Linked DNA regions of Homo sapiens. The protein of the gene in region 3 purifies or fractionates together with the protein of the main gene of each other region. This does not show direct contact. Each region holds a gene or a part of one and is shown on either strand. Other genes may lie near its edges. The genes, in order: FSD2, GOLPH3, CHSY3, CMTM6, RCN2, LRP5 and RMND1.

What was found.
Region 1: the proteins of CHSY3 (region 3) and FSD2 purify together in Homo sapiens (co-immunoprecipitation; one large-scale study listed by IntAct). This does not show direct contact.
Region 2: the proteins of CHSY3 (region 3) and GOLPH3 purify together in Homo sapiens (affinity purification with mass spectrometry; 2 studies listed by BioGRID and IntAct, with this or other methods). This does not show direct contact.
Region 4: the proteins of CHSY3 (region 3) and CMTM6 purify together in Homo sapiens (affinity purification with mass spectrometry; one large-scale study listed by BioGRID and IntAct). This does not show direct contact.
Region 5: the proteins of CHSY3 (region 3) and RCN2 purify together in Homo sapiens (affinity purification with mass spectrometry; one large-scale study listed by BioGRID and IntAct). This does not show direct contact.
Region 6: the proteins of CHSY3 (region 3) and LRP5 purify together in Homo sapiens (affinity purification with mass spectrometry; one large-scale study listed by BioGRID and IntAct). This does not show direct contact.
Region 7: the proteins of CHSY3 (region 3) and RMND1 purify together in Homo sapiens (affinity purification with mass spectrometry; 2 studies listed by BioGRID and IntAct, with this or other methods). This does not show direct contact.

What each region holds. Positions count from the first base shown.
Region 1 is NC_000015.10:82,764,421-82,768,388, reverse strand, and holds part of FSD2 (fibronectin type III and SPRY domain-containing protein 2), read left to right. Parts: intron 1-2,357; coding exon 2,358-2,491; intron 2,492-3,090; coding exon 3,091-3,223; intron 3,224-3,968.
Region 2 is NC_000005.10:32,167,352-32,171,319, reverse strand, and holds part of GOLPH3 (Golgi phosphoprotein 3), read left to right. Parts: intron 1-3,968. UniProt on the Homo sapiens protein: Phosphatidylinositol-4-phosphate-binding protein that links Golgi membranes to the cytoskeleton and may participate in the tensile force required for vesicle budding from the Golgi.
Region 3 is NC_000005.10:129,903,183-129,907,605, forward strand, and holds the start of CHSY3 (chondroitin sulfate synthase 3), read left to right. Parts: upstream 1-1,282; 5' UTR 1,283-1,647; coding exon 1,648-2,449; intron 2,450-2,659; exon of another isoform or gene 2,660-2,745; intron 2,746-4,423. UniProt on the Homo sapiens protein: Has both beta-1,3-glucuronic acid and beta-1,4-N-acetylgalactosamine transferase activity. Transfers glucuronic acid (GlcUA) from UDP-GlcUA and N-acetylgalactosamine (GalNAc) from UDP-GalNAc to the non-reducing end of the elongating chondroitin polymer.
Region 4 is NC_000003.12:32,496,076-32,500,043, reverse strand, and holds part of CMTM6 (CKLF-like MARVEL transmembrane domain-containing protein 6), read left to right. Parts: intron 1-3,968. UniProt on the Homo sapiens protein: Master regulator of recycling and plasma membrane expression of PD-L1/CD274, an immune inhibitory ligand critical for immune tolerance to self and antitumor immunity.
Region 5 is NC_000015.10:76,945,110-76,949,077, forward strand, and holds part of RCN2 (reticulocalbin-2 isoform a precursor), read left to right. Parts: intron 1-2,311; coding exon 2,312-2,408; intron 2,409-3,300; coding exon 3,301-3,443; intron 3,444-3,960; coding exon 3,961-3,968.
Region 6 is NC_000011.10:68,423,814-68,427,781, forward strand, and holds part of LRP5 (low-density lipoprotein receptor-related protein 5 isoform 1 precursor), read left to right. Parts: intron 1-1,288; coding exon 1,289-1,479; intron 1,480-2,164; coding exon 2,165-2,374; intron 2,375-3,968. UniProt on the Homo sapiens protein: Acts as a coreceptor with members of the frizzled family of seven-transmembrane spanning receptors to transduce signal by Wnt proteins.
Region 7 is NC_000006.12:151,424,385-151,428,352, reverse strand, and holds part of RMND1 (required for meiotic nuclear division protein 1 homolog), read left to right. Parts: intron 1-770; coding exon 771-871; intron 872-3,968. UniProt on the Homo sapiens protein: Required for mitochondrial translation, possibly by coordinating the assembly or maintenance of the mitochondrial ribosome.

The DNA.
Region 1 (3,968 bases), on a different chromosome or scaffold from region 3:
TTGGATAAAGAAGATGTTTAAACTGAGACCTGAACATATGGGAAAGACTGAGCCCCAAGAACAGCGAATGCAGGGGTGCTTCGGGGGGAGGGGGCTGCATGAACACAGGCCCTGGGGCAGGAGTGAGCTGCTGGAGGAACTAAAAGACCCACCTAGCTAGAATTCAGAGAGGTGAGGGTGAAAGCCATAGGCGAAAACAAAAGAGATTGCAGCTGAATGTACAAAGAATGTTTCATCTATCACAGAAGACTGTCTGGAAGCTCATGTTCACCCCTCATTCTCAGAGAGCTAGAGGGGTTCACAAATTGATAAGGGTTGGACTCAGTGACCACAAGGGCTCGCAGAACCTATGAGTTTACAGCAGCCTATGATGGAGGAAGCATAGGTTTACCTCTGGTTTACAGAAGTTTGTGAAAGGGGATGAACCACCCAGGCAGGCCAGCACCAGCCACCAGGACCAGGGGCTCCCCTGCTGTGGAACACAGGGGTGCACTGACCTGGAGCTGGAGAAATGAAGAGGTGTTGGTGTCAATTGTTAGGGAAGCAGATTCTTCTATGCTAAATGCCAGGCTTGAAACGTGGCCATATGCCACCCATCCATCTGTTCCAGGTGGAATCTGTGTGTCCATGGCCACACAGAGGCTGACTTTGGTAATCCACTCTGGAGATACTCAGGAGTGGGGCAGTGTGTCCAGTGGTTCTGGCCATCCTAATGGTTCAGGTTTCCTTTGCAATTTATGCTGATACTTTAGGAGCACTTGACACCTGGGACCAACTCACAATGATGAGGTCATCAGAGGGCTGGTCAGTAACCTGAGAGATGACCTGAGAGCTGGTGCATATTCTTCCAGTACAAATCCAATCATGGCGACCCATTGCTGAAGAAAAGGCAAAACTCCTTCACAGGCTCTGGCCCCTTCCTGCCTCTCCAGCTCCTCCCACACCAGCTCCCCTCCCTCTCAAGATCCCACCACATTGGTCATGTTTCAGTTCCTCCTACTTTTCATGCTCCTTCCTGCCACAGGGCCTTGGCACATGCTTCTCCTATGTAGGAGACTCCTCTGTCCCTTTTTCATCCAGTTACCTCCTCAGCATTCTTCAGAGCTCTGCTCAAAAGCCATCCTGCCCCCACCATTATACACTACAGCACACTATCAACTTGTCTTGGTTACCATCTTACATTCCTTCCAGTGATTGCCTGAAGAATGCTGCTCTTCCCATCTAGACTGTAAGCTCTATGAGGGCAGGAACTACATTTGTTTTTTCTGAGGGCCTCCCTATACAGTGCCTGGAACCTAAGGAGTTTAGTTAACATTTATTGAATGCATAAGTAAAAGTGCCCCTCTGGCCCAGAGCTGCAGCCTGAAGATAACCTGGACAACTTGGCCTCATCTGGGTGAGGGTGTTGTATTGGTAAATGGGCATCATCCTAAAGACTTCTCTTGCCCACTGGACTGACATGGGGTTGGCAACCGCAGCAATATAGACAGTGGCAATTATGAGCTTATATTTCTGTATAGTACAATTTAAATACATTGGATTATTTCCAATAGGCAGCTGTTAGGGGGTTAACAGCAGTTAACACTTTCAGCTCTAGTCAGAATTGTTTGCTCATAAACATAAATCAAGGACCTTTTTTTTTTTTTTTTTGAGACAGTCTCACTCTGTCGCCCAGGAGTGCAGTGGCGTGATGATCTCGGTTCACTGCAACCTCCAACTCCCAGGTTCAAGCAATTCTCCTGCCTCAGCCTCCTGAGTAGCTGGAATTACAGGCACCTGCCACCACACTCGGTTAATTTTTGCATTTTTAGTAGAGACGGGGTTTCACCATGTTGGCTAGGCTGATCTCGAACTCCTGACCTCAAGTGACCCACCCGCCTCAGCCTCCCAAAGTGCTGGAATTACAGGCATGAGCCATTGCACCTGGCTGAATTGACGGCCTTCTATGGGCCCAGTACTGTACTAAGAATAGCGGTACTCAGCCCCTGACCTCAGAGACATTATGATCCTAACAGACGGACAGAGACACACTGGATTCTACTGCATGCACACTCCATGATGCAGTGTTAACCATATGCCAAGCACAGTGCTGGGTGCCTGGGAAACCAGAATGAGGGACTTGGAGAGGAGACAGCCACAAACACAAGAAGTAGCAATGAAGTGAGAAAAGCAGACCAGAGACTGTGGGAGGGAATGCAGAGGGGGAGCCAGCACTCCTGGCTATGCTGCTGTTAAATGTGGGTCAGAGGACAGGAGCGCAAGAGTGAGTTAAACCTTCCAGCTTTGAAAGGGATGCCTGGTGCTTGGGCCTGGGTGTCCTAGCCCCATTCTGACTGCAGCTCTGCTTCCTTGTACAGGTCTGTTGTGGGCATCCCGACCTGCGAGTCCGTGGTGCAGCTGCAGCCGGGGCGGAGCTACATTATCTATGTGCGAGCCCTCAATATGGGGGGCCCCAGCGTGAGGAGCGAGCCAGCTACAGTCCACACCATAGGTCTGTGCCCCAGCCCACAAAGTCTCTGGGACCCAAAGTGGCCACTCTGTGGCAGACCCAGTGCTGCTATGACTTCACTGGGAAATTGATGAATATGCACAGATGTGGACACGTGGCAAGTCAGGCCAGAAGGAGTTCAGGGGTGTCCCATACTGCCCTAATTGCAAGTCAAATGGATCATTAAGAAGTCCTTCAATTCCTATTTCCCTTGGCAAATAGGTTAGAAATTCTTATCCATACACAGGCATTACAGCTAGAGGTAAAGAGCACAGCCTCTGGAATCAGAGGGGCTTGGGGTTCAAGTTTAAGTTCTATCATTTGCCAGCTGATTTCTTAACCACCTTGTGCCTCTGTTTCCTCATCTACAAAATGGAAATAGTGACACCTGTTTCTAAGGGTCGTCGTGAGGATTGAAGGGGATACTAGGCACACAAGACTGCCCGATGAGTGTCAATTGCCATCCTTGTTAACTGGACGCCTATTACTAGGCCAGGTCCAGGCTTAGGTGTATCCCACACGAAGCTAAACCGGTGACCACCGCCCACATGGAGAAAGCAAGTGATTGGCTGCGGGTCTTCTGTGTGTTCCTCCTCCCACAGGAAGCTACTTTCGCCTAAACAAGGACACTTGCCATCCCTGGCTGACCATTTCTGAAGACGGACTTACGGCTGTACGAAGTGAAAGGAGAACCCCCGCCAGGGAGCTGTCACCCAGCGACACTCACTTCACCAGGTACTTTGTCAACCGCTCACAAGGGCGTTCTGTGAACTTCCCGAAGGTGCACTGTTATTCAGGTCAAATCCGAATATGGCACGGAGGCAGCCTCGAGGGAAAAGGAATCCTACAAATGAGTGAGGAGGGAGGAGCCTAATGGGGAGGGGACCCAGAGGAGTGTGGGCAAGAGGGGTCAGGCAGGTGCAGGCAGAAGAGCCCCCTGGGACGGTGAGGTCAGGAGAGGGCGCGGTCCCCTGGGAGGGCATGGTCCCTGGGTCCTAGGCTGCCAGAGCTGGAGCAGCCAGAGGTCATGAGGGTGGGACAGGAATTACTAGTGGAGGGTGTCCAAGTTCTTGGCGTTCTGAACAAAGAATTGGACAAAATGCACAAACAAAGCAAGGAAAGAGGCCAGGCACGGTGGCTCATGCCTGTAATCACAGCACTTTGGGAAGCCGAGGCAGGCAGATCACCTGAGGTCAGGAGTTTGAGACCAGCTTGGTCAACATGCTGAAACCCCATCTCTACTAAAAATATAAAAATTAGCCGGGCCTGTTGCGGGTGCCTGTAATCCCAGCTACTCGGGAGGCTGAGGCAGAAGAATTGCTTGAACCCGCGGGGCGGAGATGGCGCCACTACACTCTAGCCTGGGCAACAGAGTGAGACTCCTTCTCAAAAAAAAAAAAAAAAAAAAGCAAGTAAAGAATGAAGCAACAAGAGCAGAGATTTATTGAAAACGAAAGCACACTCCACAGGGTGGGAGTGG
Region 2 (3,968 bases), about 98 Mb from region 3:
TAAAACATTATGAAATTTTTTTTGCAATTTTTTTTTTTTAAAGCTCATCAGCTATTGCTAGTGTTAGTGTATTTTATATATGGCCCAAGACAGTTCTTCCAGTGTGGCCCAGGGAAGCCAAAAGGTTGGACACCCTTGCTCTAAATGTTTAAGGTGAAGCATATTAACATGCTGTTTTTCGGTGATTGGGTCTTAAGAAGATAATCTAAATAATTTGTTGAAGTTTAACCATACTCACATAATTTAAACAATTTAAAGTTATTTGGCGGGTAATTGAAACCATGTGTTCTGTTTATTTTGCATCAAGAGTCACTCATTATACTTTGCTAGTCATGGCTAAGGTCCAGATGCTTGCTAGCTTATTGTGAGCATTTCTTCCTGATTTCAGCAACCACATGGGGAAATTTTTTCTCTTTTTTTTTAGGCAAGTCCAGAGAGTTGAGGGGTGGGGTTGAGACTACTGGGATTTTGTATTGCTTTAGGTTTTGGTTTTAGGGATTAGCCTATATATTTTTTCCTTTCATCACATCTTTAAAATTTTTTTTTTTAAGAGATGGAGGTCTCAAGATGTTGCCCAGGCTGCACTCAAACTCCTGGGCTCAAGTGATCCGCCCTGAGTAGCTGGGAATACAAGGTGCATGCCATCAAGCCAACTCATCATGTCTTTACACTCTAATAACCAGCCCTGTCAACTTATCTGTTGGTATGTTTTTCCCTTGGGAGGCTCGCCACCATGTTTTTAACCTATAGTACTCTTTTTAGGAGGCAGGAATTGCTGTCTTACCCTGAGCCCAGGCGTTTATGCTAACTCATTGCTTTAACTGATTTTTACTTCAGCATTTATCTTTTTAATGTCTGGATTCTCCTAAGAACTTTAAAAGCTAAACTTTACATTTAAGCAAATCATTAATGTTGGAAATATTTTATATATGTGAGCTAATAACCTTATGTGAATATACTTGTTAAACCAGTACCTAGAGCAAGAAACAGAAGCCCTAGCCCTCCACTTGAGTATCTTTCCAGTCACTACCCATTCCTCAGGGGTAACCACTGGCTTAATATTAGAATTCAGCATAGATTAATTTTGCCTAGTTTTTTGTACTTTGTGTCTGCTTTTTGTTCAATGTGAGATTCATCCATATCGTGTGAGATTGTCCTTTGTTCTTATTGTCTTACCAATTTATTTTTAACATGTTTATAATCTATAATATTTAAAAAATTACTTTGACATATTCTGAGTCAAGTCTCCCTCTCTTTTTTGCTGAACAGAAGGTTCAGTTTTTGAATAAGCAGATGGTCTGGCTTCAGATTACCTGTTAGGAGTGAGTCTAAAGTCATTGTGATTGATTTTTTTTTTTTTCTTTACACATTTCAGATTTTTTTTTTTTAACCAATGATATTTGTTTTTTGCTTTTATAAAACAGGGATGGCTAGTCCCCTCAGAAGATTTTCATGCTCACTTGGGCAGAGAATCAGTGCATAAGTATTTAAGTAACTCTTTAAAGACCACAGTAAGGATGGCAGATAGTTTACACCTAAATTCAACTGCCAAGTAATTAGCAGTATTTCTTTAATTGACCCAGTGTTTGAGGGGGAGGGACAGCAAAAGTGCCAGGTATTTTCCTTTCCCTGTGTGTGTTTATTCTATAGATGCTTTCCATAGAATATTTTCAGGATGCTTTATTGAGAATTACCACAAATAACTGGTGTCATATATGTTTGAATGTCTTCATTGGTGGCAAATCTTAGTCTTTTAAGGTTAGATTTAATTATTTTCAGTGGCCAAGTATAATTTGGAGTATGCCTATGGAACAGCAGAAGCAGAGAGAGGCTCTATAGTCCTGTCCAAAGTGTATTCTTTGGCTTTTACATATAATTTAAGCCTTCTGAGCTTCAGTGTTTTCATGTATAATGGAAAAGTAGTCATTCCATATGATGGTTCTGATTGTACTGCTGTGGATGTTTATTAACTCCTCCCCAGGTCTTCGCTTTATTTTGTATTACTTTAGGGTTTCCCCATAGTGTGTTGCCTGTTTTTGAGACAGGGTCTTTCTTTGTCACCCAGGCTGGAGTGCAGTGGTGCGATCTTGGCTCACTGCAGCCTCAACCTCTTGGGCTAAAGTGATCCTCCTGCCTCAGCTTCCCGAGGAGCTAGGACCACAGGCACACACCACCATGCCCAGCTAATTAAAAAAAAATTTTTTTTTTATAAAGACAGGGATTTCACCACATGGCTCAGGCTGGTCTTGAACTCCTGGGATCAAGTGATCCTCCCGCTTCAGTCTCCCAAAGTGCAGGTATTAGAGGCATGAGCCACCGCACCTGTTTTTTTTTTTGTTGTTGTGTTTTTTGGTTTTTGTTTTAAGACAGATTGTGCTGTGTCGCCAGGCTAGAGTACAGTGGCGAGATCATAGCTCACTGCAGCCTCGAACTCCTGGCCTCAAGTGATCCTCCCGCCTCAGCCTCCCAAAGTGTTGGGATTACTGCGACCGGCTCTAGGATGCACTCTTGAAGCATATTATTCCCCTGCTGTTTTGTCATGCAGCCAGACTTGTCCAATCATATGTTTTCTTTCAGGGCTTTGGATCTTGAGAGAATAACGAGCTGTAGGGTTTTTTGGAGACCTTTCCAGAGTCATGTCAGCGTGTGGATCAGACTGTTCTTTGGCATGGTTCTTTGAGCTGCTTTCTCTGGTCTGTTGGCACTGTTTTTTTCCAGTCTGATTTTCCAGTCATCTTTCAGTGTTGTGAGTTTCAACAGCCTTCCAGTAAAGTTGCTTTTTAAAGATAGCCAGAGTCAGTTACTAATGTTTCTAATGCTTGTAGACAAGAACTGTAATACAGTAACTTAACTCTATGTCTTGAAAAATAAGTAGGTACTTGAGGTAAATAATATGTAATGGGGTAAAATACTTAAGATTAACCAAAATGATAGAACTGACTTTTGTGTGGCTTTTACACAGGCTCCAAAGATGTTTTCCATTTTTGGAATAAGGTTCCCAAGGTCACTACTTTGAAGTATAATAGTGATGAAGATGTATAACTTAACAAAAATTGTTTTCCTTTCTATACGTGTGGTGATGTCCACCATCTCTACATATCAAATCTGTAAATCAGAAATTCAGTCAACAAGTATTCAGAATTTCCAGATGTGCTGAGTTTTAGTAATTTAAAATATAATAAAGGCTTCTGAGTTTTTAATGAATTTTCGTTGTTTCTAAGACAAATGATATTTCCTTCATATTTTTTGAAGTTTTGAATTTTTATCTATTTTTTTCAGGTGTTTAAACACAGGTATGAGATATACAGGATCTCAGAAATTACTTTTGAAGTTCATTAAACTATTTGATTGTACTTTTTTTCTTTTGAGACAGGGCCTAGCTTTGTCTTCCAGACTGGAGTGTGGTGGTGTGATCATGGCTCATTGCAACCTCGACCTCCTGAACTCAAGCAATCCTCCCTCCTCAGTCTCCTGAATAGCTGGGACTATAGGCGCACCCTATCATGCCCAGCTAATTAAAAAAAAAAATTTTTTTTTGTAGAGACGTGGTCTCACTATGTTGCCTAGTCTCGAACTCCTGGCCTCAAGCAATCTTCCCGCCTTGGCCTCCCAAAGTTCTGGGATTACAGGTGTGAGCCACCACGCCTGGTCTGCTTATTATACCTTTTCAACAAGATTTTATACTGTTGAAATTACTTTTTAGTGCTTTGGGATTCTTTTACAATATGGTCAAAATATTCACTAACTCATCTCATAAGTTATACTAATATTTGATATTTGTTAATTTTGGACTACCTGAGAGTTCTTGTATGGAGCATTTGAATTACGTTTTAGAATTGTATTTTGAAGGCTGGGTGCGGTGGCTCACACCTGTAATCCCAGTACTTTGGGAAGCCGAGGTGGATGGATCACCTGAGGTCAGGAGTTCAAGACAAGCCTGGCCAACATGGTGAACCCCTGTCTCTATT
Region 3 (4,423 bases):
TAATGCTCCCTTCTTCAAAAATCATATACCTTCAGGTAATTTCTTCCTAACGTAACTAAGGCACAATGATTTTGGCCAATACAGCTTAACTTTTTTTGAGATTCTGTTGCTGGACAATTTTCCTCCCTCATTGGAGAGGTAAAATTTTCCTGTCTTTGCCTTAGAAAATAAAACGGTTCATAGGCAAGAATAAAAATCATATCCTCCATTTTATTTTTTGATTAAGTTCACTTATTTTGTGGGGGTAAGAATTTCTTTCGTTTGGATCTTCAGGGTATTGGCCCTGTGAATGTGTGCCCATTTCTCCACTATTTGCCAGTCCCACTGAGCCAATCTTCTACCAAGACTGAAAATAGACCATAGTTCTCATTTCTTGAACAGATATCATCAGGAGAGCCGAGGGGGAGACCATTAGGCAGCCCCACATTTTCCAACTCAACAGGTGGAGGACATGGGATTTTTACGTTCTTTGGGGATTGAACCCCCACACACCACCAACTCCCTTAGCCTTTCAGGATAAGTATTTCCAATCCCTCAGAGATTTTCTTAGGAGAGACCCTAACGACAATGGTGCTTCTGTGAAGGACTGAGGAGAGCTGGTGGACGATGCAGGTAGGAGGGAAGTTAGGCTGGGAGGAGAGGTGCTGGGATGGGACGTTTGGTTTCCTGACAAGTGACCGACTAGAGAGAGAAGGCGCGGAGTGGCAGCGGTAAGAACAACGTGGAAAGGACGGAAAACGCGAAGAGTGGCGCCCTGGCGGACCTGGGGCGGGGCAGAGTGGTAAGGGTCACGCCAGGACGTACCCGGCTGTGGGCCGGGGGAGGAGAGCACGGTGGGACAGCAACGAACTTGCTGGGGGCTCCCGGACCCGAGCTCCGCCGATGAGGTCAGCGGAGCCTAGGCGCCGGGAGGAGGCCAGTAGAGCCCCCAGACACGAGTGTCGGGAGGCCAGCGGAGGGGCGGGACGGGACGGGAAATGGGACGAAGAGCAAGAGCTGGGGGAGGAGGGAAGAGGGGGCGTCGGCGCTGCAAGCCGGAGGCGGCCCGACAGGGATCGTTTCCTTCCGGAGAGGAGGCCGGCTCTGGACTGAGGCGCGGACGGGGGGCGTCCAAGGGCGGGTGACGGGGAAATACCGCGGCCCGCGCTTCTCTCCGGCTGGCAGCGGTGCCGCCTGCGGCTCCTCCTCCGGGCCAGCTCGGAGCCCGGCGGCGGGGGGAGCGGGAGGCGGGAGTGAGGGCGGGGGCTCGGGAAGGAGGGAGGAGGGAGGGCCCAGGCGCGCCACTGACAGGGTGGCAGCCTAGGAGCGGACGCGTTGCCGCCGCCGCTGCTCCTCCTCCTCCTCCTGCAGCTCCTCCAGCTGCCGCTGCTGCCGCCGCTGCCGCCACCGCCGCCGCCGGGAGAAGTTTCACTCCCGACCCTTGCTCGGAGCCCCGGCCCAGAGCTGAGCGGGAGCCCGGCAGGCAGCTGCAGCCCGCGGCAGTCGAGGCGTCCGCGGCGCTTCGACCTCCAGCCGGTGTCGGCGCCTAGGCGGCCGGCTGCGGCCGCGGCTGGGGGCGCAAAGGCGGAGGAGGGGCGGGTGTGAGCCGGGGAAACCGCGTGCCGCGCCGCGACAGCCCAGCGAGCGTCCGCGCCCGGGACAGCCGCGATGGCTGTGCGCTCTCGCCGCCCGTGGATGAGCGTGGCATTAGGGCTGGTGCTGGGCTTCACCGCCGCGTCCTGGCTCATCGCCCCCAGGGTGGCGGAGCTGAGCGAGAGGAAGAGACGTGGCTCCAGCCTCTGCTCCTACTACGGTCGCTCTGCTGCTGGCCCCCGCGCCGGCGCTCAGCAGCCGCTCCCCCAGCCCCAGTCCCGACCACGGCAGGAGCAGTCGCCGCCCCCCGCGCGCCAGGATCTCCAGGGGCCACCGCTGCCCGAGGCAGCACCCGGGATCACCAGTTTTCGAAGCAGCCCCTGGCAGCAGCCACCTCCGCTGCAGCAGCGGCGGCGAGGACGCGAGCCTGAGGGCGCGACGGGGCTTCCCGGTGCTCCAGCGGCCGAGGGGGAGCCCGAGGAGGAGGACGGGGGCGCGGCTGGGCAGCGGAGAGACGGCCGGCCGGGGAGTAGCCACAACGGCAGCGGGGACGGGGGCGCTGCCGCCCCGAGCGCCCGACCCCGGGACTTCCTGTACGTGGGGGTGATGACCGCGCAGAAGTACCTGGGCAGCCGCGCGCTGGCCGCGCAGCGGACCTGGGCGCGTTTCATCCCGGGCCGCGTGGAGTTCTTTTCCAGCCAGCAGCCCCCCAACGCCGGCCAGCCCCCGCCACCCCTGCCTGTCATCGCGCTACCGGGTGTGGACGACTCCTATCCTCCCCAGAAAAAGTCCTTCATGATGATCAAGTACATGCACGACCACTACCTGGACAAGTATGAGTGGTTCATGCGCGCCGACGACGATGTCTACATCAAAGGTGACCTCCCTGCGCCGGCTTTCCAGCCTGCCAGTCTCCCCGACTCCTTTCTCTGTAACCGGTCCTAGCCCCTGCCCAGCCCCTCCGCTGCTTCTCTGCCAGCACGTGCTTCGGGCTCCCACAGGCCCTGGCCCGCCCTCCCCACCCCTTGCATCCGCCCACAATTCGTAGCCCGTTCCTCGTCTTCTGCAATCTGGACCCTCCTCACACCTGCCTGGCTTTATTCGCCTTCCTCACTTGCTGTTTTCGGTGCCGCCTCGCGCTTGTCCCTTAGTCTTTACCTCGTCGGAGAGGTTAGAAAAGGAACCTTAGAGCTAAACCAAAGGCCATTCCCACTCTGCCCTCCTCTGAAAGCCCCTGCTGATGGTAGTTTCCCCAATCGGTCCAGAGGGGCGTGGTCTTCAGGAAGGGAAGACGGAGGATGCTAGCTACAACTAGTCTGGAGATCCAGTGTTCTGGCTTTGGATCTTGCTCTTTTGTTTAAACTGGATCTAGCGCACTTTTGGAACTGCTCAGATTGAGGAATCGTCTTCGCTGTCCCGGACCCTTTCCTATGTGTTCCCTTCCCTTTGGCTCAACTCTCCACATACTGGGAGTCCTTGGCCATCCCCACCGTGCCAGCGCGCTGCTCCTTCCAGCCGCTACAGTTCAGCACCAAGCCGTCCCCCATCCCCCCGCCACACCTCAATAAAACCCTGAGAGGATGGGCATGTTGTAAGGAATTGGTGGTGGGGGAAAAGAGGAAAGCACCCGCTAATAAGCCAGACCCCTGGGAACAGCAGACTGTACTAGCACACACTAGTATTGGTTCCTTTCCAGTGCATTTTGTTGGCCGCGGTGATAAGCAGAGGCTGGAAGTCCTTCCCAGAACCACAGGCAGCCACAGCAAGAAAAAACTTTTTTTGTCAGTTTAAAAGAGGCGCGGTCTTTTTCCCGGAATGTGGGCGGCTCTGGACAGAGAATTTCTAAACTCAGCGGATCAAAGTTCTTTAGGTCAGAGAAGTGAATCTTTCCAGTCCAGCCAGTTGCTGAGATGGGGAGCAACGCAAGGGAAGCAGCAGGGTTGTACCGAATGAGGTTTCTCTGTGTTTTCCACATTTCCTTGCTTCCCGGTCAAAGGGGGGCAGCCCTTCCTTATTTTATGCCTTTCTACTCGTAGCCTCATTGCTTCCTCCTGATTCGGATAGTACTTTTCACATAATGCAAGAAAAACGAACAAAAAGCCAAACAATAAACCCAAACTGTTGCATTTTGGCACAAGGAATTAGTGTAATCATAATAACTAGAGATTTCTTGGCTTTGGATTGGAAGGAGGGAAGTCACTCTAGAGCAGGTTGGAATAGAAAATACTGATAATTGGATATAAAAATAAAGAATGGTCTCATTACATTTTTAACAGTGGTATTTAGGATTGACTCAAAGAAGAAAGCTTCCTCTACTTTAAGTTCCTTGCCTTGGATATCTCAAAATTACAAAGGTTTCCTGGCAGAAGTTTGCCACATTTTGCAGGGAATTTATAAAATGCATTAACAGCACCTACTTCTTTCATTTGTTTTAATACTTTGAAAGATTGTCCTTCAGAACATTAAAATGACATATTATTTCAATTTCTATTAAGAATGAAATGTGTTTTGAATTAAGAATCCAATAATAGCTGAAACTCATTGAGATACACGGGGCAAGGCATGGGATCAAGATAATGACTGCAGATGCTGTGCTCATCAAAAATGGTAGTAAAGATGCTGACTGGGAATATGAAGAAGGTGACTCTCTACTTATTCCAATGTATCACTTGGAATACCAAGTGCTTCTCAACTGTTTTAGCTGCAAAATTTTATTTTTAAACGTTTTTTCTGAACTTAACAAACTGCAAGTGAAACCAATTACACTAATTTTTGACAAACTTTTTTCTAAAAAGGTGCCTTCCCAAATTAAATTTCAAGACAGGTTTGATTCAAACATCCTCCAAAACTG
Region 4 (3,968 bases), on a different chromosome or scaffold from region 3:
ATCCTACAAGAGAAAAGCCTGCTCTAAAACTTAAAAACCAGACATTGTGTATATACTTAGGAAATTCTTACATTAGAGTCTTCGGAGGTTGAATTGAATTACCTCTGAGGTTCTTTGCACTCTTAAGGTTTTTTTTTTTTTTTCAAACCTCTGAGGCTCCATGGGGTTTGCTATTACAGAACTGAATTGAATATTGAAGGGATAGAGAGTGGAGCCTGTACACAGAGGAGATTAGAGATAAAAGAACGTAACTTCTCTATCTCTTGAAGTTAACATAGCTGTGTCTGCCATTTAGATATGACCTAAGTTTTGTTAAAACCCTAAGCATCCCCCAACTACCATCCACCCTTCCAGAGCTTAAGAAGAAATACTCAGTTGAGAATTTAGTGTAAGGAGTTACTGGAGTCCTAACTTTATGCAGTTTTTCAGTTTATACTATCCTTAGATTTGTCCACATGTTCATGTTTTATTTTGTGAATGTTTTTGAGGGAGTTTTTGTTTTAAGGGGAGAATTGACGTTTGGTAACCTAATTGCTTGCTGATACGCTGGTGCAGTGACCTAAATATGTGGAATTTTCTGTGCAACAAGCTCCACATTGTATCCATGCTGTCAGTTGACTATCCTGATAGCTGCACAGTACTGGAATTCTAGTCGCTCATCTGGCAAGCAGTTTTAGAAATCGCCAGTGATTTTTCAATATATTACATTATAAATAATGTTACCCTATAAGTACCAAGAAACAGATTACTTGGAAGCATTTCTTATATTGATGCTCTTTTCATTATTTAAATATGAAAACTGATGTATAGTAAATTGAAATGTTCTATTTTTACCTTGAGGAAGATCCCGTAATGTCAGCAAATTATATCTGAACCTTTGTAAGAGTAAATATTTGCCTAAGGCAAGGGAGGCCTGGCCTGTTTCTTCAGACCAATGGATTTTTAAATTTGAACTTTACTTATAACTACAAAGTTTTTAATAGTAAAGTTCATTAATTTATAATTCATATCATTTTGTAGATGGAGCTTTATAATTAATGGCAAACATTTAAAAGTTCTTTTTATAAAATATAAGTAGTAGACTGTTAAATTAATGGAGAATTCGTATTTAATATAGTGACCGTTTTAAGGAACACTTGAAATTTCAGAAAAGGTAGTGAAACTGAGGCCGGGTGCGGTGGCTCATGCCTGTAATCCCAGCACTTTGGGAGGCCGAGGTGAGCGGATCACAAGGTCAGGAGATAGAGACCATCCTGGCCAACATGGTGAAACCCCGTCTCTACTAAAAATACAAAAATTAGCTGGGTATTGTGGCGTGCACCTGTAATCCCAGCTACTCAGGAGGCTGAGGCAGGAGGTGGAGATTGCAGTGAGCCAAGATCGTGCCACTGCACTCCAGCCTGGCAACAGAGCGAGACTCCATCTCAGAAAAAAAAAAAAAAAAAAGAAGGGGTAGTGAAACTGAAATGGAGAGATAGAGGCAGGATAGTAATTATCCAGTGTTTAAATCACCAGAACTGTAAGATCATGTTTTAGTCACTGAGACTTCCCAAATCTGTTGATGTTAGCAAATTGTTTTTAATGTATGATTTAATACATTAAAGGAAATATACAGAACTGTGGGTTTAACTTCAAAAAGCCAGTCTTACAGGGAAGACCTACACAAACATACATACTCGTAAAAGGAATTTAACAAACAGTATTTCATGGGGAGAGAGGAAGTACAGAGTGGGAGTCAGAGACTTGGGTTCTTGTCTGTGCCGAGCTAACTTGGGGCTTAACCTGTCAGTAGCTTAATTCCATCTTTGTAAACGTGGGAGTGGGAGACTATATCCGCTAAGGGCCCTCCTGACATTAAAAGCTTGATAATTCTCTTAATTATATTTGGGTAAAATTTTATGTCATTAGAAGGAGTTACATTGGGTATACAGTTGTTAAGTACTTAGCTTAATATTCAGTAAGCAATATTTAGTATGATGACTTCATGCTATTAAGAACAAAACTGTTTACCAAAAAATAATAATTGAGCCTTTTTACTTATGGGTTATGTTTACCATGAATTTCTTAGCTAATTCAGTGACATTTTTTCTCTCTTCCTATTTTTGACCACTTTGGCATTTAATGCTGGTGACCACTCATTTCTCGAAATTGTTCCTTCAGCTTTTACACTTTTTTTTTTTTTTTTTGAGACGAAGCCTCGCTCTGTCACCCAAGCTGGAGTGCAGTGGTGCAGTCTCGGCTCATTGCAACCTCTGCCTCCCAGGTTCAAGCAATTCTCCTGCCTCAGCCTCCTGAGTAGCTGGGACTACAGGCGTGCACCACCATGCCCGGCTAATTTTTGTATTTTTGATAGAGACGGGGTTTCATTATGTTGGCCAGGCTGGTCTCAAATTCCTGACCTCGTGATCCACCCGCCTTGGCCTCCCAAAGTGCTGGGATTACAGGCGTGAGCCACCGCGCCCGGCCAACTTTTACACTTTTTTCTTTTTAATACAAGAAAGTGTCTGCTTACCAAAAAAAAAAAAATCAACTAAAAATATTAAAATAAAACCACTTTCCCACCCCTCACACTACCAGGTGTCACGGTATGAGTAACAGTTTGGAGTATGTTTACTTGCTGCTTTTTAAGGAGTTTTTTCTTTCTTTTTTTTTTTTTTTTTTGAGACAGAGTCTCGCTGTTGCCCAGGCTGGAGTGCAGTGGTGCGATCTCGGCTCACTGAAAGCTCTGCCTCCTGGGTTTACGCCATTCTCCTGCCTCAGCCTCCCGAGTAGCTGGGACTACAGGCGCCCGCCACCACGCCCGGCTAATTTTTTTTGTATTTTTAGTAGAGACGGGGTTTCACCATGTTAGCCAGGATGGTCTTGATCTCCTGACCTCGTGATCCGCCCACCTCGGCCTCCCAGAGTGCTGGGATTACAGGCGTGAGCCACCGCGCCCGGTGTAGGAGTTTTCTTTTTTTAAAAACACTTCCTGTGGCTTGCTGATAAGAAGTTAGTTGCTCTTTTCCCTCCTACACTCGGAACTGTAGAATTCCTTTAGGCCCCACCCAATCCTCTGTTCCTCCTGTTTTCTAACCTACTAAACCAGACAGGTGTTCCCTCCTGCCTTCATCTAAACATCCATATTCCCTTGCATGATCATCACACAACCACACCCAACTCCTAAACCATTTTTTTCTTCATCCCCATCCAGTTAGGTCAGTTGCCTTATTATCATTTTTGGATTTACTATGCAAATTCTTGCCCTTATGAATATGTTCTTTTTCATCCTCCACCTAGAATTAGAATGTCCTCTGTCTATCCAGGTTCTGTTTGTGTCTCTGCCTGGTTTGAGTCCTGCTTTTCCACTCATCCTTCTCCGGCTCCTTCGAACATTTTCTTGAGATTTTCTAACCTACATATAATGAATGCTCAGTTAATGTGGTATAAAATATATTGTTATTATTGTTTCTTGTACATTGAGCTTATTACTCCATCATTTGTATCTTCCTATACGTAGAACAGTGTTGGAGTGTTGCTAGTTCAAGTACACTTTGAGCTAGCAATTGCATAATGCTGTGGGAGCTTACAAAGGTTAGTAGCCTCAGAGATGGGTAGGCAGAGAATTTTTTTTCTTTTTTTTTTGGTAGAGATGGGGTTTCACCATGTTGCCCAGGCTGGTCTCAAACTCCTGAGTCCAAGCAATCCTCCCGCCTTGGCTTCCTAAAGTGCTGGGATTACAGATGTGAGCCATCGCATCTGGCCGACAGAATTTCATATTGACTATAGCTTGTAGTGCCAATTTGTTGGCCTTTAACTTGAGATGGGAGCTAGTAAATGTCCACACTTTTTTTTTTTTTTTTTTTGAGATAGTCTCGCTTTGTCACCCAGGCTGGAGTGTAGTAGCGCCATCTTGGCTCACTGGAACCTCTGCCTCCTGGGTTCAAGCAATTCTCATGCTTCAGCCACCCAAGTAGCTGGGATTACAG
Region 5 (3,968 bases), on a different chromosome or scaffold from region 3:
GTAAGGAGGCTTTCTTGTGGTGACGAAGTTGCTTATTGGGAGGGAGAAGGTGAAAGACTGAATTTTTAAATCTCTGTACTATGTATGAACAGCAGGCTTCCTCAGGCTATTTTCTCTCATAACTGTGTTACCTTCAGTGCCTTCCTTATCCTTTTGTAGCTTTCAGATTTTTTTTGGTTTTTCAATGTTAGTAATATTAGGATTTCTGTTTAATTTACAACATCACTTATGAAAGCTTTTGGTCTGGAAAAACATCATGTTTGGATTCTTCATAGGGTTGGTAGGGGTGCAGCTGCTAGTTAACTAGTAATGTTTTTGCAATTTTAAGTATAATGAGTCCTCTCATCCCTTTAATATTTAAAATAAGTACCAGTTTTTCAAAACTTTTGTTGAATTGTAAGTTTAACTCAACAAACATAAATTGAGTCCCTATTATGACTTGGCCAAGCTTGAAAGCATAAACCATCACACTGGGAAATAAAGACTAATGTAACAAATAGCTTTTTAAAAAAGAGACTAAACATTTATATTGAAGTCTGTTGCATGACATCAGCCTCCAGCTACGTGGCTTGGTTCCCTGGATATTTCAAAGAAGGAAGATATATCTTTTTGTTTAATGTGTCATGGTAGACCCTGCTGCCTTGCATAACAAGGCTGCAGATACATTTTTCTCCATAGCTCAGTGGTAAGACACTGTCATTAATACCACTTCTCTTGCCATTGTGAAGCTTCTAATTTCTCATTGGCACAGAATACATGACCCAGTTTAAGAACAGTGCTGGGTGTAATTTAAGTACCAAAATTAAGTTGGGAAAAGCTAATTGAGCCCAAGAATGACAGGCAAAGGATGCTAGATCTTGATTCTCTGGAGAATAAGGAACAATTGAAGACTAAAGAGGGGAATTACCAGTAAAAGCAATGAAATAATTTAGGCATAATGTGATACGGCCCAGAGTTCTATCTGGCAATTGAATGAAATAGATTTGAGCAACATTTTGAAGAAAGCATATGCAGGAATGTTGACTTACTAAATAAGTGTTAAGGGAAGGCAAGAGTCAGAGATGGGCCAGGCATGGTGGCTCACACCTGTAATCCCAGCACTTTGGGAGGCCAAGGCAGGAGGACAGCTTGAGGCTAGGAGTTCAAGACCAGCCTGGACAACATAGCAGACCTTGTCTCTACAAAAAAGTTAGCCAGGTGTGGTGGCATGCACCTGTGGTCCTAGCTACTTGGGAGACTGAGGTGAGAGGATCACTTGAGTCCAGTAGTTGGAGCCTATGATGCCACTATTATTGTGCCACTGCTCTCTAGCCTGGGTGACAGAATGAGATCCTATGTTAAAAAAAAAAAGAAGGGGGAGGGCTAGGCGGAGTGGCTTACGCCTGTAATCCCAGCACTTTGGGAGGCTGAGGCTGGCAGATCATCCGAGGTTAGGAGTTTGAGATCAGCCTTGCCAACATGGCAAAACACTGTCTCTACTAAAAATATAAAAGTTAGCTGGGTGTGGTGGCATACGCCTGTAGTCCCAGCTGCTTTGGAGGCTGAGGCAGGAGATTTGCTTGAACCCGGGAAGCAGAGGTTGTAGTGTGCTGAGATCATACCATTGTACTCTAGCCTGGGCTACAGAGCAAGACCCCATCTGAAAAAAAAAAGGAGATAGGAAGATATTGAGGAAAGTACTGAAACAGCTGGCCATTGAACAGGTCATCTTTAGGGAAAAGGATTGGTTGTTTGATAAGAAGCTTTGATAAGAGGGAGGAACAGATTTGGGGGCAGTTTGGGATGGATAGGGCTAGGTTTGCTGAAGGGGAAGCAAGGAGATTGAGGTATAATGGCGGGCTGGTACATTTTAGATCTGGAGGCAGAACAGCAGTTCTAAGGTAAGGGCTCTTTTAGGGTTGTTCATGGATTGGAGGGCAAATGAAGTTAAAGACAAAGGTAGTATAAGATGCTTTTCTTGAGAGGGAGAGATGTGCGGAAAATAGCATGAGAGTAACGCTGAGGTTGTTTATGAGAGTGAAAGTGGAGTTCTTCACAATATCAGAAGCTTAAGGATGTTGAATTTAAAGCTACATAGTACTTCAGGTTTTATTCTTGCTTCTAAATTCCAGTGTTTAGAAGGATTGTCTTGAAGATATGGACAACCAAAGTGATTTTTCCTGTATAAGTACCTTACTAGCTGATTGCACCACTAGAGCTCCAAAAATTATCATTTATTTCTAAAGAAGTTCTGTAGTAGAATTGAATCGGATGGCAGTGGGACTGAACATTTTGTAACTTTTTTTTTTCTTTTTTAATGAACGTGGAATAGGAATTTGTCATTCAAGAAGCTTTAGAAGAACATGACAAAAATGGTGATGGATTTGTTAGTTTGGAAGAATTTCTTGGTGATTACAGGTGGGATCCAAGTAAGTCACCTGGGAGAATGTGAAAAGAGAAAAGGAATTGAAGAAAGACATTGAAAGACAGCCTTGCTCATTGAAAGCTCTCTTCAACAGGAAATGTAATGAGGATCTGTGTCTGATCCTACTTGTTTCGTTAACTGTAATACAAGTTCAACAAATGGATTTATAGCTTATCTGAGAACGCTGTCTTGCTTACTTTTACTTCCGTGTCTAGAGTCAAACATTTTTCTTTCTTTTCAAACAAATCTAATTTTATTATCAGTTTAAATGGGGAAGGAAGTAAGGTAGATATTTTTAAACAAAATCCTGTGCTGTTGCAGGTGGATCTTAAAAGAGATAGAAACATAAAACACTACAAATACTGGTGTAAACACAGTATCAGAAGCTTAGTAGAAGGTGAATAAGTGTTTGAAATTAAGAGTTTGCTTTTATATAAGCAGCTGTTTTTTCAGAATTGTTGCTTAAAGACACCAAACAATGCCATTTTTAAATTGGTCACCAGTTTTACTTATTCTGATTGTCACTTTAAAATTACACATGGCATTACTTTGTGAAAACATGTAAGAAACTTTGTATAGAAACATGATATACAGTAAAACATTACCCACCTCACATCTGGGAAAACTAGATATCGGAACAAATAGCAGTTAACAAAATTACTAGTTTGTGAAAACATCCAATGATTTTAAAACTGGGTTGTTTAGACTCGTGTCACTTTTGAAAATGACTATATATTTGTTCTTATGTCAGGACTTTTCAGTTAAGTAGTTCTGTTTTATTGGGCTTTCTTTAGTAAACTTTAAATTCACTTCCTTTATTCTAGGGATATACCAAACTTCTTATTGGATACATGTGATATTCTTGTGTATGTATATTTGTGTTTTTTTATATTAAGCTGCAAATGAAGATCCAGAATGGATACTTGTTGAGAAAGACAGATTCGTGAATGATTATGACAAAGATAACGATGGCAGGCTTGATCCCCAAGAGCTGTTACCTTGGGTAGTACCTAATAATCAGGGCATTGCACAAGAGGAGGTAAGTGTTACAGAACAACTGTTTCTCTCCACCCCCTCCCCCCGAATTTGGTGCTGTTGATAGGAAAAGAAGTTCAAAATCTTAAGCCAAAGAAAGAAGTAATGGAGTTATTTGGGATTGATGCATTACTATGTTTTGAATTTACGAACTGTTTAGATTGTCAGGGAGACGAGGAAGTTAAGATTGTGTCATGTATTAATTTGAGAGTACAGTGAATAGAATAATAGTTTGTATTTACCTACAGGGACTCAAAACAGGTTATAATAATTTTTCATTGCCTTGATATATCCTGGATTGGATTTGAGTGGAGAGAGACAGAACCCAGCAGAAATGAAGAAAGGAGATAATGGGAAAAGCAGTAGACGGACCTGGTTACAACGTGTAACATTTTTAGATACTTAAACAATAATGAGTACTTGTACACCTGGATGATTTTGACAAGTCAAATCACATTAAATTGTGAACATCTTGCTGAAAATACTTATTACACTTGACACTTTTTTGTTTTATTTTGAAGGCGCTTCA
Region 6 (3,968 bases), on a different chromosome or scaffold from region 3:
GTGGCTTTCCAGGGTCCCAAAAGCAAACACAGGCTCTTTCACAGCCCCTCCAGGAAAGCAGAAAGCCCCAAGGGCTGGAAGGGAAGGGGGAGCTCTGCTGAGAGGTTACAAGGCAGCGCTGGCCGACGGGAGTTGCAGTTGATAGGTTTTGTATCATCCTTGTTAAACTTGAACCCTGTGCAGAAATCCCTTCCACGGCATGGGGGCTGCCTGTTGACTCGCTCCTGTTCCACCACAGGGAGCTCCTGGGCTTCTTCCTCCCAGAGGCCCCCGACGCTCCCACCTGTTGGTCGTCAGAGCTTCTGGTTGGTGGGAAGGCACCCAGGACCTTGAGGTCTCCAGAGAGAAAAGCCAGGGAAAGAGGGAGACCGAAACCCATGTGACATGAAACTCAGGCTCCAAACTGAGCACGGGAACGTTTGGGGACAGGAGCGCGATGGCCTTCCTCAGATAGCTGGGGGGCTGGCATGAAGACGGGAGCTACAGCCAGCACAGGTCCTGGGCCGGGAGCCCAGAGATTGAGCCCTGACTCTGTCACTTACTGGCCACGTGACCTTGGGCGGGTGGCATAGCCTCTTGGAGACTCAGTTTCCTCATTGGTAGGAGTGACGGCCACAGTGGTGCGGCCTCTGCAGCACACGGGGGGCTCGGTGGGCGGAAGCCCCGGGTCTATAAGGCGGCTGTGCAGGAGCCAGCCGAGCTGGTCTCCCAACAGCCAGGGCTCCGGGGTCCTTAGCAGCTGTGGGGGGCCTGCACCTGTTTCCCATGGCTGCTGTCAGAAATTACCAGAAGCCAGGTGGCTGAGAGTAATGGACACTTGTTCTCTCACAGTTCCTGAGGGCTGAAGCCCGAGATCGAGGTGTGGGCAGGGCCCTGCGCCCTCTGAAGGCTCTGAGGGAACCTTTGGGCTTCTGGTGGCTCCAGGCACCCCTTGACTTGTGGTCCTGTCACTCCAGTCTCTCTGTCTGGCTGCACATGGCGTGGCCTCTTCTGTACCATTGAAGGACACTTCAGTTGGATTTAGGGCCTACCCTCACCCATTGTGGTCGTATCTTGATCCTTCATGACATTTGTAAAGACCCTGCTTCCAAATAAGCTCACATTCTGAGGTTCTGGGGTGAGCGGGAATTTGGAGAGCATTGTTCAACTAGTATAGAATGTGACCTGTCAGCCTCGGGCAGCCCTGAGAGGCAGGGGCTTTCCACAGCCCAGCTGGGTGCCCTGGGCTCCGTGCTGTCCGAGGAGACGCCATCCCCACACCCGTCCTTCACCCGCCACCCTCCCGCAGGTACCTGTACTTCACCAACATGCAGGACCGGGCAGCCAAGATCGAACGCGCAGCCCTGGACGGCACCGAGCGCGAGGTCCTCTTCACCACCGGCCTCATCCGCCCTGTGGCCCTGGTGGTGGACAACACACTGGGCAAGCTGTTCTGGGTGGACGCGGACCTGAAGCGCATTGAGAGCTGTGACCTGTCAGGTACGCGCCCCGGGGCCTGCCCTAACCGCAGACACCCGGCCTTCATTGTCAGTAATGGCAGCAGCTGCCACATTGTCCGAGACCTGCCGTGAGCCCAGTGCCGCGCCAGGGGCTTTGTGTGTAGCGTGTTTTGTCCTCACACTGACAGCTGTAGGCTGGGGTTCTGAGTGAGCCCCACAGGGCAGAGGCAGAAAATGAGTCTCAGAGAGGGTGAGCGAGCTGCTTGGGGCCCCACAGCAGGAGATGGAGCAGGACTGCAGCCTAGCCTCTGCCCCCAGCACCTGCGCAAGAAGCTGCTCTGCTCTGGACTGTGTTAGGCTGCGAGGGCTGGAGAGAAATGAGAGTTGGTGCTTAGAGAGGGGGCGCAGGTCCCCATGGCTTTTCCTCTTATGATGAGGTAGATGGGTGAAGGGAGGGGCCATGCTTGCAGGGGCCAGTGACCGAGGCCCGCCGTTGGAACTGATGGCCTTCATCCCGAGCCCAGCCCAGGTGGGAGCAGGGCTTTCCGAGGGCTTGTCTTGGGTCGGCCTGCTTCCAGGGACTCTGCTGCAGCTCCCACCCCTGTCCAAAGCATGGAATCCCCCAGGCTCCCTGGCAGTCCTGTCAACCTCTGTCCTCCCAAGCTGAGTGTGGGGCAAGTTCTGGAGGTCAGCACTGCTCAGGGGGGCCCACGGGCTGCTTGCAGGGGCCAACCGCCTGACCCTGGAGGACGCCAACATCGTGCAGCCTCTGGGCCTGACCATCCTTGGCAAGCATCTCTACTGGATCGACCGCCAGCAGCAGATGATCGAGCGTGTGGAGAAGACCACCGGGGACAAGCGGACTCGCATCCAGGGCCGTGTCGCCCACCTCACTGGCATCCATGCAGTGGAGGAAGTCAGCCTGGAGGAGTTCTGTACGTGGGGGCTGGCAGTGGGGTGGGCAGGGTGGCCTCTAAACCCGACCCCTGGAGGAGGCTGGAGGCCAGTGCAAGATCCTGTGTGGCCTCAGCCAGGCGGTGGTCTCTGCCAGATGCCAACTGTTGCCCGCTGGGGTTCAGCGACATGTCCGAATGTCCCGAGGCCTCTGAGGTTGTTTTCTTTTGCCGCAGAACAAATCACCACGAACAGCGTTTTAAGACAACACCAACTCTTTTTTTTTTTTTTTTTTTGAGTCAGGATCTTGCTCTGTTGCCCAGGCTGGGGTGCCCTGGTGCAAACACAGTTCACTGCAGCCTCGACCTCTGGGCTTAATTAAGTGAACACCTTGCCTCAGCCTCCCAGGTAGCTGGGACTACAGGTGGGCACCACCACACCTGGCTAATTTTTTTTTGTAGAGACGGGGTTTCCCCATGTTGCCCAGGCTGGTCTGCAACTCCTGGGCACAAGCTATCTGCCTGCTGTGGCCTCCCAAAGTGCTAGGATTATAGGTGTGAGCCACTGGCCTGACAACACCCACGGATTGTCTCTCAGTTCTGTAAGGCAAAGTCCAGGCACAGCGTGGCTCACCTGGGTTCTCTGCTCAGGGTCTCACGGGGCCAGAATCAAGGTGTCAGGAACGCTGGGCCCTCAGCGGAGGCTCTGTGGAGAAATTAGCTTCCTTGCTCACTCAGCAGGTAGCAGTTGTGGGATCGAGGTTCTGTTTTCTCTCTGGTTATTGGTCGGGGACCACTCTCAGCTCCTAGAGGCCACCACAGGTCCTTGCCCCGTGGCCCTCTCTGCCTCAGCAGTGGGGGCTCCCTGCGTCAGTCCCTCCCACACCTTGAGTCTCTCTGATTTGCTTCTAAAGGGCCCTGTGATTCGGCTCAGCCACCTTTAGATTAGGTTAGCCTCCCCTTTGATAGACTCCAAGTCGGCTGATTAATAACCTTAATCACATCTGCAGAATCCCTTCTGCCACATAAGGTCATGACGCCGTGCTGGGGACTGGGGTGGGAAATTACGGGGTCATTTAGGATTCTGCCTGCCACTGCCTTGCTGTGTCCCAGGGCTTGGGGGAGGGGCCTCCACAGCTGGGACCACAGTCCTTCCTCCCCTCCATGGTAACCATCTGAGGATTACTTGAGACCAGCCTGGGCAACATGGTGAGAACCCATCCCTACAAAAAATACAAACAAAAAGGGACCAGGCTGGGCTTGGTGGCTCATGCCTATAATCCCAGCACTTTGGGAGACCAAGGTGGGCTGATCACTTGAGGTTGGGAGTTCGAGACCAGCCTGCCCAACATAGTGAAATCCCGTCTCTACTAAAAATACAAAAATTAGCTGGGTGTGGTGGCAGGCGCCTGTATTCCCAGCTACTGGGGAGGCTGAGGTGGGAGAATTACTTGAACCTGGGAGGCGGAAGTTGCAGTGAGCCAAAATTACGCCACTGCACTCCAGCCTAGGCAATAGAGTGAGACTCCGTCTCAAAAAAAAAAAAGGGCCAGGGGTGGTAGTGACAAAGAGACCCTATCCCAAAAAAACCGAACACTGAATCCTTGAGACTGAGTAAGGACACTGTGAAATTTTT
Region 7 (3,968 bases), on a different chromosome or scaffold from region 3:
TGTTGAAAATGTCATGTGCATAATATGATCCTATTTTACATAAAAAGCAGCATAAATATGTACATATATACACATAAAAAGTCTGGAAGGATATGCACCAAGTTTAATCATGGTTGCCTCTGGGGATTAGGATTTCAGTACAGAAGAGAGAAAGAGATGATCACCTCCCACACCTGTGTGGCTTAATTTTTTATTAGTATGTTGGGCTTTACTTTTTATTTTTTATTTATTTATTTTTTTGAGATAGGGTCTTGCTCTGTCACACCGGCTGACATTGGCTCACTGCAACCGCCACCTCCCAGGCTCAAGCCAGCCTCTCAGGTAGCTGGGACTACAGGTGTACATCACCACACCCAGATAATTTTTGTATTTTTTTGTAGAGACAGGATTTTGCCACGTTGCCCAGGCTGGTCTTGAACTTTTGAGCTCAAGGATCCACCCGCCTCTGCCTCCCAAAATGCTGGGATTATTAAAGAGATTTAAAGAATACAAATTATAATATTACTAGTGATTTTCCTTGGGTTGTGGGATAATGATAACCTTGATTTTCTTCTCCATTCTCATCTGTGTTTTCCAAATGTAAAAACAAATGAACATGTCATCCTGATTACTTTAATATCACAATGGATTTGATTTGCCTTTTCCTTAAAAACATGCAACAGAAATAATGCCTGTAAGTGTAATGAAGACTGTTATAAGCATTAAAATCATAACATACTTGAACTGAGGGAGTCAGTTATGATTTCAGATTAATCTTCCTTTTCTTCTAGATGAAGCATGTGATGAAAGTTCTAGAAAAACATGAAATTCAGCCCTATGAAATCGCACTGGTACACTGGGAAAATGAAGAACTTAACTACATAAAAATAGAGTAAGCAACTTTTCATCAAATTTATGAAAGGGGCACTTGGAATAAATTAGGTAAAGCAATAGAGGAGACAAATTATTATGCATATGGAAACTTTTTTTTTTTTTTTGAGACGGAGTCTCACTCTGTCGCCCAGGATGGAGTGCAGTGGCACAATCTCGGCTCACTGCAACCTCTGCCTCCCGGGTTCAAGCAATTCTCCTGCCTCAGCCTCCTGAGTAAGTGGGACTACAGGTGTGCACCACCACGCCCAGCTAATTTTTTGTATTTTTAGTAGAGACAGGGTTTCACCATGTTGGCCAGGATGGTCTGGATCTCGACCTGGTGATCCGCCCACCTCAGCCTCTCAAAGTGCTGGGATTACAGGCGTGAGCCACTGGACCTGGCCTGGAAACTTACTTTTAAGAAAAAAGTGGCCAGGCGTGGTAGCTCACACCTGTAATCCCAGCACTTTGGGAGGCTGAGGCAGGTGGATTACCTGAGGTCAGGAGTTCAGGACCAGCCTGGCCAACATGGTGAAACCCCATCTCTACTAAAAAATACAAAAATTAGCTGGTTATGGTGGCGGGTGCTTGTAATCCCAGCTACTCGGGAGGCTGAGACAGGAGAATTGCTTGAACCTGGGAGGCGGAGGTTGCAGTGAGCCGAGATCACGCCATTGCACTCCAGCCAGGGTGACAAGAGTGAAACTCCGTCTCAAAAAAAAAGAGGAAAAAGATTACTGGTACAAATACAAAGTCTAAACCATATAATAAATATTAGAAGATAAACATAATTTTTTGAACTTCTCAGGCTATCCACAAGTTAAAACAAGTCAGTAGTATAGCCCCAAAATGGAAATGTTAAGTTTCTAATCAGCCTAATCCAATAAAATAGTATGCATTTATCAAATGAACCTATCAAATTATTCCAGTAAATTTTTCTCTTAATCCAGTTTTTTCCTATTGATTTTGGGGGGTGGGGGTATGAAAAGGAAGTATAGTGAGGGGTCAATCTAAGAGACCCACTTGTAGAAGTGTGGGTGCTGGAAGAAGTGGGACCTGGTGTACCAGTTTCACTAAGATAAATGGGTAGGCAACAGACTAGCTGATTTTCCTGACTCAGCCAGAGGGAAAAAATGAAGAGATGTTAGGGCCGAGACAGAGGCAGTATGAACAAGATGGTAGTGTCTTTTTCCTCATGGAGTTACCTGTCTAGTGAAATATGAGTCTTTGCAGGTTCTTAAGAAAGGTAGTGTTAGCCAGATTTGGTGGCTCACACCTGTAATCTCAGCACTTTGGGAGGCCAGGGTGGGAGGATCAACTGAGTCAGGAGTTCAAGACAGCTTGGCCAACATGGCGAAACCCCATCTCTACTAAAAATACAAAAATTACCCGGGCATAGTGGCGAGTGTCTGTGATCCCAGCTACTTGGGAGGCGGAGGCGGAGGCAGAGAATTGCTTGAACCTGGGAGGCAGAGGTTGCCATGACCTGAGATCGCACCACTGCACTCCAGCCTGTGCAACAGAGTGAGACTCTGTCTCAAAAAAAAAAAAAAAGCGTTAAAAGCAGAGCTTTGGGAAGACTTGGAAGAGAGACAGAGACTAGCTATAGAAAGACCAGATGGGGATAAGAGCTGAGTAATCAGCGCTCACCACCAATAGGGCCAGTCACGGTTTTCTAAGTAAGTGCCTTCCATGTATTATTTCATTTAATCCTGGGGAAAACCCTATAATTGCAGCTAACTGGCTTTCCGATGAGATTTATTGAATCCTGTCTTGCCAAAGGGCACCTGACTGTGAGTCAGCCTGAGCCCAGTGGTGGCTGCAGTCAGAGGTAAGGATATAAACCTGAGAGAGACAGCAAATGAGCAGCCTGTAGTTTTATTATCTTTAGTAGTTACTCAGCCCTTGGCCTGCAGATACAGCTCCTGTGAATCCCCTTTCTGTGTTCTATTAGGTTTACATTAAAATGGCAAAAACCGCGATTACTTTTGCACCAACCAAATACTTCCATATCCAACTACTGCTAGACCCTTGTGTGTGTGTGTGTGTACGCTTATCCACACACACACACACACGTTACTGTACAGTCTGTGAGGAGTAAAATCCTCAGTGCTTAGGATCCCAGAGTCAGTTATTTTGTTTCGTCAGAAAGACTGTCCTGGCTGCCACCTACATGGTTATTATGTGAGTTCTGCCATGATTCCAGGGATCTGCTCAGCTCTGTGGCATGGGCCCAGTTTACTCATAAAGCATCTTGTGACCAAGCACAGTGGCTCATGCCTGTAATCCCAACACTTTGAGAGGCCAAGGCGGGCAGATCACTTGAGGTCAGGAGTTCAAGACCAGCCTGGCCAACATGGTGAAGCCCTGTCTGTACTACAAATATAAAAATTAGCTGGATGTGGTGGTGCACTCCTGTAATCCCAGCTACTCAGGAGGCTGAGGCAGGAGAATCGCTGGAACCCAGGAGGCGGAGGTTGCAGTGAGCGAAGATCACGCCACTACACTCCAGTCTGGGTGACAGAGCAAGACTCCGTCTCAAAAAAAAAGACCTCTTGTGACTGCTGTCTTTGCTTTCCTTCCTCCATCTGAGGCTGTCATAGCAGATGCCGCCCTCCATCAGGCCCCTTGTCCCCCTCCCTTTGGCCGTCACTTCTTGTCTGACATCTTTTGTGAAGGTTTACCCTGTCTTTTTTCCATTTGCTTGTGATGTTTATATTCACACATTCCGCTCTTCCCCTGTCCCCTGTCTAGGATTCTCCACAGTCACATACTCATTTTTCACAACTTCCTTGCCTCCCTCCCCAACCCCATCATGTCAGTGTGATTTTAGATTACACTCCATATATAGTTTTATATGCAGCATTTTTTCACATAGAAATTTACTGTGAACGTTCTCCTTTTTATTAACTATCCTTCCAAAACACACTTTTAAGTTTTTCTTGTGTGGAGTGACTATTACTGAGCCAACCCCTACTGAACATTTGGTTTATTTCCTAATTTTTTACTCTTAAACACTGACCTTTTTTTTTTTTTTGGAGACAGAGTCTTGCTCAGTCTCCCAGGCTGGAGTGCAGTGGCGTGATTTCGGCTTACTGCAAGCTCCGCCTCCCGGG